Regions from separate parts of the Homo sapiens genome. Here regions 1 and 3 are each linked to region 2. The links come from fine-mapping of genetic effects on gene expression. A gene starts in region 2. Each other region holds a variant in brackets. All regions are shown on one strand. Distances are between the middles of the regions.

What was found. PIP is the estimated chance that this variant, and not a neighbour inherited with it, causes the effect.
Region 1: its variant is fine-mapped to the expression of FLVCR2 in blood mononuclear cells (TOPMed, PIP above 0.99). The same link has a PIP of 0.9 or more in T cells, monocytes and whole blood.
Region 3: its variant is fine-mapped to the expression of FLVCR2 in whole blood (INTERVAL, PIP 0.98).

What each region holds. Positions count from the first base shown.
Region 1 is chr14:75,614,146-75,616,817 of GRCh38, reverse strand. The region is part of intron 1 of FLVCR2 (FLVCR choline and putative heme transporter 2); the gene reads right to left. Among named protein-coding and RNA genes, the nearest start is that of FLVCR2-AS1, 36 kb to the right of the region's middle. The variant T/A (reference allele first, on the strand shown) is at 1,497.
Region 2 is chr14:75,577,380-75,580,051 of GRCh38, reverse strand. It overlaps FLVCR2 (FLVCR choline and putative heme transporter 2), which reads right to left and starts at 1,432. Exons shown (of 10, transcript NM_017791.3): 1 at 411-1,432. The coding sequence starts at 1,079. FLVCR2-AS1 (FLVCR2 antisense RNA 1) reads left to right here and starts at 464. Exons shown (of 3, transcript NR_110552.1): 1 at 464-2,275. RefSeq lists a silencer at 1,487-1,556 and an enhancer at 2,267-2,326.
Region 3 is chr14:75,609,299-75,611,970 of GRCh38, reverse strand. The region is part of intron 1 of FLVCR2 (FLVCR choline and putative heme transporter 2); the gene reads right to left. It also overlaps the pseudogene RNA5SP387. Among named protein-coding and RNA genes, the nearest start is that of FLVCR2-AS1, 31 kb to the right of the region's middle. The variant G/AG (reference allele first, on the strand shown) is at 1,519.

The DNA.
Region 1 (2,672 bases), 37 kb before region 2:
TCTTGACCCAAGCCACTGGCAAGGTGGATCCTGCTCCTGTTAGGAGACAACAACCTCCACAAACAGGTTCTCACCTACTGAAACTCATTCCTCTCCCAACGTGCTGTGCTATTCAGACAAAGGCAAGCCCACCCTCACCCCTAGGGCTGGGCCCCAATTTGCTCAAACCAATTGGCTCATTCCTCTCCCCTGGGCATAATCACTGGGTATGGCTGGACATGTTCCCTTAGATTTCAGAGCTCTCAGGAGCTATCTTCCTAGTGCTGAGTCAAAAAAGTCCATACTCCATAAACATGTAAAATGCCATGTATCAATTAAAAAATATATATATGTATGTATCCCTTTATTGAGCCAGCTGCTTTCTTTGCACCAGAGTCCCTGAGGCTGAAGGCTTCCATCAAATTTGGTCCCTTTATGACCTAATCTGGGGCTTGCCTCATGCCCATGCTATGCTATTTTTATTTTTTAAATTAAAAAAAATTTTTTTTTTTTGAGACAGAGTCTCACTCTGTCGCCAGGCTGGAGTGCAGTGGCGCAATCTTGGCTCACTGCAACCTCCGCCTCCTGGGTTCAAGCAATTCTCCTGCCTCAGCCTCCCAAGTAGCTGGAACTACAGGATCATGACACCATGCCTGGCTGATTTTTTAATTTTTTGTGGAATTGGGGTCTCTCACTATGTTGCCTAGGCTGGTCTCAAGTGGTCTTCCCATCTCAGCTTCCCAAAATATTGAGATTACAGGTATGAGCCACCATAACTGGACTTACGCTATTTTTTTTTTTTTTTTTTTTTTGAGATGGAGTCTCACTCTGTCACCCAGGCTGGAGTGCAGTGGCACGATCTCGGCTCACTGCAAGCTCCATCTCCCGGGTTCATGCCATTCTCCTGCCTCAGCTTCCCGAGTAGCTGGGATTACAGGTTCCCGCCACCACATCTGGCTAATTTTTTTTTTTTTTTGTATTTTTAGTAGAGACAGGGTTTCATGTGTTAGCCAGGATGGTCTCAATCTCCTGACCTTGTGATCCGCCCGCCTCGGCCTCCCAAAATGCTGGGATTATAGGCATGAGCCATGACGCCCAGCCGGCCTTATGCTTTTTTAAATGAATCTCCCACTTCTCCTTTCTGCTTCAACATTCCTCAGAGACATCATCATACTAATATAGTGCTTAAGGGCTCAGGGTCAGGGGTCAGAAAGATCTCAATTCAAATCTCGGCCCTACCAGTTACTAGAGCTTGGCAAGTTAATTGACCTCTCTGTGTGTTTCCTAATCCACAAGAGGAAGAAAATACCACCTAGCTCATCGGGCTGAGGCTCACTCCCTGTCTGCAGGGTTGGCCCTTTCCCACACACTCTCACACAGCAGAGGTGACAGGCAGCAGAGGCCACTGGGACTCCCAAGATGCACTTGGTTTATTTGGGGAAGTCATACAAACCATCATCCTACCCTGGTTCTGCTTCACTTCCTTCTCTGGCTCCATCTGCGTGTCCTTCCTCAAT[T/A]ATCTTAGTCATCTTTGACTCTGCCCTCTTATATGCACTTCGTCTCAGATCCTCCCAAACCCTTCTGCAAAGTCCTCTTTGAATCTGCCCTGTCCCACTTCGGACCTTTCTGCCTTTCTCCCAGGCAACTGTGATCTCTCCTCTGCCCGACCTGCATGATGTACTCACATTCATGGTCCTTGGCGTTGCATTGACCCCACCGTCCCTGCTTAAAGAACTTCAAGGTGTCAGCCCTCTCAGAGGAAGGAAGCAGGTCCAAACCCCTCAGCTACTGTTCTTAGCCATTGATTTGGTTTGGCTCTGTGTCCCCACCAAAATCTCATCTCGAATTGTAATCCCCATGTGCCAAGGAAGGGGCCTGGTGGGAGGTGACTGGATCATGGGGGCAGTTTCTCCCATGGTATTCTCATGGTAGTGAGTTCTCACAAGACCTGATGGTTAGAAAAATGTTTGACAGTTCCTCCTTCAGACGCTCTCTCTCTCGCTCTCTTGCCTACCACCATGTAAGATGTGCCTGTTTCCCCTTCCACCATGATTGTAAGTTTCCTGAGGCCTCCCTAGCCATTTGGAGCAGTGAGTCAATTAAACCTCTTTTCTTTATAAATTACCCAGTTTCAAGCAGTTCTTTATCACAGCGTGAAAACAGACTAATACAGCTGTCTTTGCTAGTTTCAACCTTCCTTTCCAGACCCTTCTCTTCTGTATCCCTATAAATCCCCTATATTCCAGCCAGATTGAACAAGTCATGATTCCAACCTTCCCATCATCTCGTCTATACCTTTATCCCAAGTTATCCCCTTTTTAATCTTTCAGAGCCCATCACCATGTGAATTCTCTCACAGAGCTTTCCTTGACGATCCTCACTAGGCGTGATTGCCTTGCTCTAACTTCCTCTAATCTTTGGGTTGTCAGTCATTTTCCTGATACTTGCTAGTCTGGCGCTTACTCAATACATGGTTGTTGAAAGAATGAGCTGCAGTTAACTGGCATGTCAGGAAAGCACCATTGCCACTGCACATTTGTCATGTGAGCCCAGAACTGTGGAAAGATGTGGTTGGAAATTTAAGTCTAGACAAGGTTCTCAGAGAAAGTTTGATACTTTAAAAAGCATGGTTGAGGATCCTTTTAAAATAAGAGCCTCATAAAAGATACATTGAGGTTCAATCTAGACTTTCA
Region 2 (2,672 bases):
ACTGCACTCTAGGAAAGCTGGTTGGTCCAACTGAAAGCACTGCCAAGTTCTGATGACACCAGAATAGTCTGATGCCCAGGGGCTGCTGCCAGACAGAAGAGCATTCCTGAAATTACAGGTCTAAGTTGGTGGACTGACACAGGTTCGAGAACGACACAGCGAAGGTATAGTATGTTCTAGAAGCATGCTTTTGGCTGGGGCAAGAGCAACTGTGGATGAAAGAGCAGGTCCCCCTGCTTTTGTTTCCCGCCTCTCTTACAGCATCACAATCACTGCCTGTCACACCCAGTTACTGTCACCCAGAGTCACAAACACTGTTGGACAATCAGCAAATTATAGCCTACCACACCCAATAGTTAGGTGCAATCTAACACACGCCCCTGGGAACATTCACAAACTGTTCTACCTACCTGATTGCCAAAGACAGCCACGGAGCAGGCTGTTGAAACCTCATTAGCCCCGAACCAGACGGAAGCGATGCGGGAGGGCATGCCCAGGATGAAAACCTGGGCCACAGAGCAGATGAGCTGGCCCACCACGGTGACCGGAAAGAGATGCGGCTTCAGGCTGCCCAGCTTCACCCAGGCCCCCAGGCAGTTGAGAGCCGAGCCAGTGAGAGCAATGGTGCGCAGGCCGAACTTCTCCAGCAGCCAAGCCACTGGCAGGAGCAGAGGGATGTAAGTCAGCATGTAGCACATGGACAGCCAGTCAATGGCAAAGGCACTGACACCGTAGAAGTGCATGAAGATGTTATTGATGGAGCCGTACTGGATCCACTGAAAGGAGTTGCACATGGAGTAGCAGCTAAACACCAGGACCACGGCCCAACGGCGCCTGCTCACCTTGATCACGCTGAGGTCCTCAGGGCCCGAGCTACTGGGGTGAGCCAAGCCACTGGGTTGGGCTAAGGCACTGGGGTGGGCCGAACTGCTGGGGTGGACAGAGACGCTGGGGTTGATGGAGACGCTGGGATGGACCGAGACGCTGGGATGGACCGAGACGCTGGGGTCCGCTTGGAGTGCGGACTCCGGCACAGGGGTGTCATCGCTCTCTTCCTGGTTGGGACCTTCATTCACCATCGCCACAGTCTCCTCTGGAATCCTGGAGAAGTGGTGAGGACTCCGGCAGTCTTAAGGGACAGTGGCCTCTGCTGGTCTCTTAGAGTTGAAAGGACACTTGCCTATTCCAGAAGAAACAGAGACTAGAGGCTGCGTAAAAGCCTCAAGTGGGGCTTCCTGTGCTCACCTCCAAGCTCCTGCTCCCACTTTTGCTTGGGGCTCTCTGTTGCCACCCGCGGCGATCGCTGTCCCAAGGCCGGCCGCACACGCCGCAGCCGGCTCCGGACCGCTCCTGCCTTGGGTCTCCCCACGAGGCGTTCCTTGTGCAGGAAAAGTTCTCTCCTTGCGCAGCCACTTCGCCCGCAGAGTCCTCTCCCGGGCCAGCTTGGGGCCTCGCCCAGTCGGGCACACGTGACCGCCCCGCCCCCGTCCTGCCTGGCTTCTTCCGCCCCCAACCCCCCCGCCACCACTCCACCCCCGACCCAGTGTCTCTTGCCTTCTCGAGCCCGGTCCTCCGGGCAGAGCAGTTGTTTCGCCACAGCTTGCGGGATGCATTCCTCCCCCACGCCCCGGGCGCCATGGAAACCGCCCGGTTAACCCCCACCCTTTGCACTGCCCCTCATATTCATTTGCCACCCGCTATCAGCGGACCCTGCAAGAAGATCCGCCTTCCCGAAGTAATGCCCAAAATAGAGCCTCTCCGGTGCCTGTCCGCATGCCCTGCGCGCGTGCACCAAAGCCCGGCGCCACCTAAGTGTTCTGGGGAATTCAAGAGGGATTCCCCAACTTTCTCCCCCTTGGCTTAGGCTCCCAGCCCTTTGCTGAACTAAAGAGAGATTTGTAGATTTCCCGGGCTGGTTGCGCTCCTGGGTTAAAGGGGAGTTACAGAAAACTCGCTTTACTCGCTTCTTTCCCTGCGGACGTGGTTTTGTCTTGGGGAGGTTAGATTTGAACCTGTTATGTGGGGCTATTTTTCCTGATGGATTCTGGGCGAAGACCCTAGGGTGCGGGGGAGGGAAAGGAGAGTTTGAAGAAGCCGAAGAAGCTGTCCGCGGTTGTGTGATGGAACGCTTAGCACAGAGCTGGCTCCGGGCTTGGTCTTGGAAGCGGTCTTTGAACTCAAGCAGCCCTAGTCTGCCACCTGCCGGTCCTAGCCCATTTCAAAGGGCAAACCCTCGACTCGTTGCACTGACCTCTGTCCTTGGCGAGGGATCCTGGTAAGGAGCCCAAATTCTCCCTGAGTTCAAACACCAGCTTAGCTACAATGAGGTGCCACTGTAGACCAAGGAACTCCACCTCTCTGCGCTTCAGTTTCTTCATCTGTAAAATGGAAATGATGAAATAATAGTACCTACCTCACCGTGTTGTTCTGAGACTTGAATGAATTAATACACGAATGCACTTAGAAAATTCCTGCCACATAGTAAGCATTCCGCGAATGCTGGCTATCCTAGCAAAAAGCTAACATTTGTTGTACAGTGCTAAACAAATTGAATGCATTAGCTCATTTATGCATCACAAGAATTCTGTGATAAAGTTACTATTGCTGGCCTAAATTTTATAGACAAGAAAACCCAGACTCAGAGAAGTGAAGTAACTTCTTTCTGAAGGTCC
Region 3 (2,672 bases), 32 kb before region 2:
TACTCATCTGTACTCTTATCCATTAGGTTAAAGGCGCTGGTCTTAAATGTTACTCAAACCAGGAGGAAGGAGGTGAATATGTACTGAGTGTCTGCTATGTGTTAGACAGCATGCTAAAGGCTTTTTCACATGATATTTCATCTATGCCCTCACAACTACCCCCTGAAGTTGGCACCATCATCTCTGGTTTGGGTTTTGTTTGTGGGTTTTTTTGTTTGTTTGTTTGTTTGTTTGTGAGACAGGGTCTCACTCTGTTGCCCAGGCTAGTGCAGTGGTGCGATCTCGGCTCACTGAAGCTTCTACTTCCCTGGCTCAAGCAATCCTCTCACCTCGGCCTCCCAAGTAGCTGCGACCACAGACATGCGCCCAACACACCTGGCTAATTTTTTGTATTTTTAGGAGAGACGGGGTTTCACCATGTTGCCCAGGTTGGTCTCGAACTCCTGGGCTCAAGCAATTCACCTGCCTCGGCCTCCCAAAGCGCTGGGATTACAGGCATGAGCCACTGTGCCTTGGCCTCTGGTTTGGTTTTTACAGATGAGAAAGCCTCTATAATTTGCCCAAGGTCAAAACAGCTTCTCCTGGCAAAACTGAGATTCATACCCTTGGCTATCTGATTCCAAAGCCCTCAACGGACAAGGTGAATGCCACAGAAAAGTGACTGCCCTCACACCCGACACTCCCTCCAGTCTCATATGCTCCATTCTGTAGTTCAAATGTCCCCAAATGTGTAGCTGTCGGAGGAAGCAAGGGTGAGAGGTGTCTCCAGCTACAGTTTGGTTTCTTTGCCACAGTTACACTTTACAGGTTTCTTGTTTTTATGTCATGCTTAGTTTTGTTTCTTTTTGTGTAGTGTGTTGTCTCCCAAACTAAACTGTTAGTACCTTGAGGACAGGGACATTGACTCACATTTGCTCATGTGACCCTCCCGCATACCACGTCTGACACAATCACAAGAACAGAGACAGCACTCAGGAAATATTTTCTGAGTGAAGAAATAACTCTTAGAACTGTGCAGCTCAAACCTCACTCAAGTCTTTCCAGGCTGCTCTGCAGTAAACAAGTTGGGCACAGTAGCAGTTTGCTGCATTGTAAGAGTTTAACCACCCAAAGCGAGTAGATGCCAGATGAAATGACCTAAGGAAGCCCCCAGACAGGGAAGACCTCTCATTTGGGGTGCCCCAAGATCAGGCATGGAGGGGATTCGAATGCAGACCAATCAACTTCTCACTCTTAGACCTACACTCAGTATTTATTGAGCACCTGCTGCATACTAGGCACCCTACTCAGAAGGGAAGAGAAAGATGCAAGACAAGGAGCTCACTCTCACCCGGTTTATAATGTAATATACCTTGATCTTGACCTACAGCCTTGGTGTTGGGTTTCCTCCTCATCTTTGTGGGGGGTGCAAGTTAGCTGAAGAGCAGAGATACACTAGGCTGTAAACAGAGAAGTTGCTAAGTTTAGGTGAAGAAAATGAGTTTCACAAGGAAAGTTTTCTGATTAAAGAAAAAAAAA[G/AG]GAACACTGACAAAGGCCGTGTTTTATTTTTTTAGCTAAGCCCGGTATTTATGCTTGCTTTCTGTCATCATGAACTCAGGAGCTTCCTGGCACACACTCCTCCTTTTAAGGACTTGGTGTTCCCCTTGAAGTTGTCCTCATGGTGAACTCCACAAAGGGCCAGCCTAGGTCTACTTTGGGTGCAGAAGTGAAGAATCCACTGCCTTTTCTTTCAGTGAGAGAACAAATCACTGTCACCTCAATACATTAATGTCCCTCTAGCTGACTGTGCTGAAAGCCAGTGGTCACAGAACTTCCCCATGACTCGGCTAGGAAGGAGGAAAAATGAGTGGGTGTCTTTCAAACCACCCGGCCAGCTGAGATCACATCAGATCACATCATGCAAATCTTACTCCAAAGTTTTCACATTTGAAGTAGGCGATGTGCAAAGCGCCATTCAAATGCTTTGGCACTGATTGCCCACCAATTCTGTCCCAGACACCAGCAATCAACAGCCAACAGAGGGATTCTCCGGTCTTCTGCATTCCCTTAACACTAACCCCCCATCTATCCCCCCCAACTCAAAGGTGCCACTCCCTGACCTTTGACAGATAAAACAGCCCAAAGGAGAATAATTGTCTCCTTTGTCTGCAAGGCAACATTCTGGCATTCCTAAAAGGGATGCTCACGTGACGACCAATGTTTCTAATCCTCCCATGTTTCCTTCTAAATCTGGATGGACTTTCTGGTAATAGCCCTCCTATTCTGATTTTTTCAGGGGTAAAACCCTGCCAATTACTTACTGGCAGGCCCTGGAAGAGTTGCTGCTTCATGGACTGCCATGGGCAAAACCCAGTTCCTCTGGAGCATGCACTTCAAGAAATAGATAGGATGGGACCCATGTAGCTTTTTCCTAAGAAGCCAACTTCATAAGTTAACTAAGCTTGCCTCAGGATCCCAGACAGACAGCTGGAAAGAAAAAGAAATCTCAAGCTTACACCAAAAAAACTATTAGTCACTCACATCTATAACGCCCTGAGAGAGAGAAAGAGAGAGATTGCAGCACCATTAGATCTGGCCCTGTTATTTAGGGAGTTACTCAGGGACCTGCTTAGCTAAAAACATCTCCTAATATCCTGCTTTGAAGTCACCCGCCCTCCTACTTGGGCTGACAT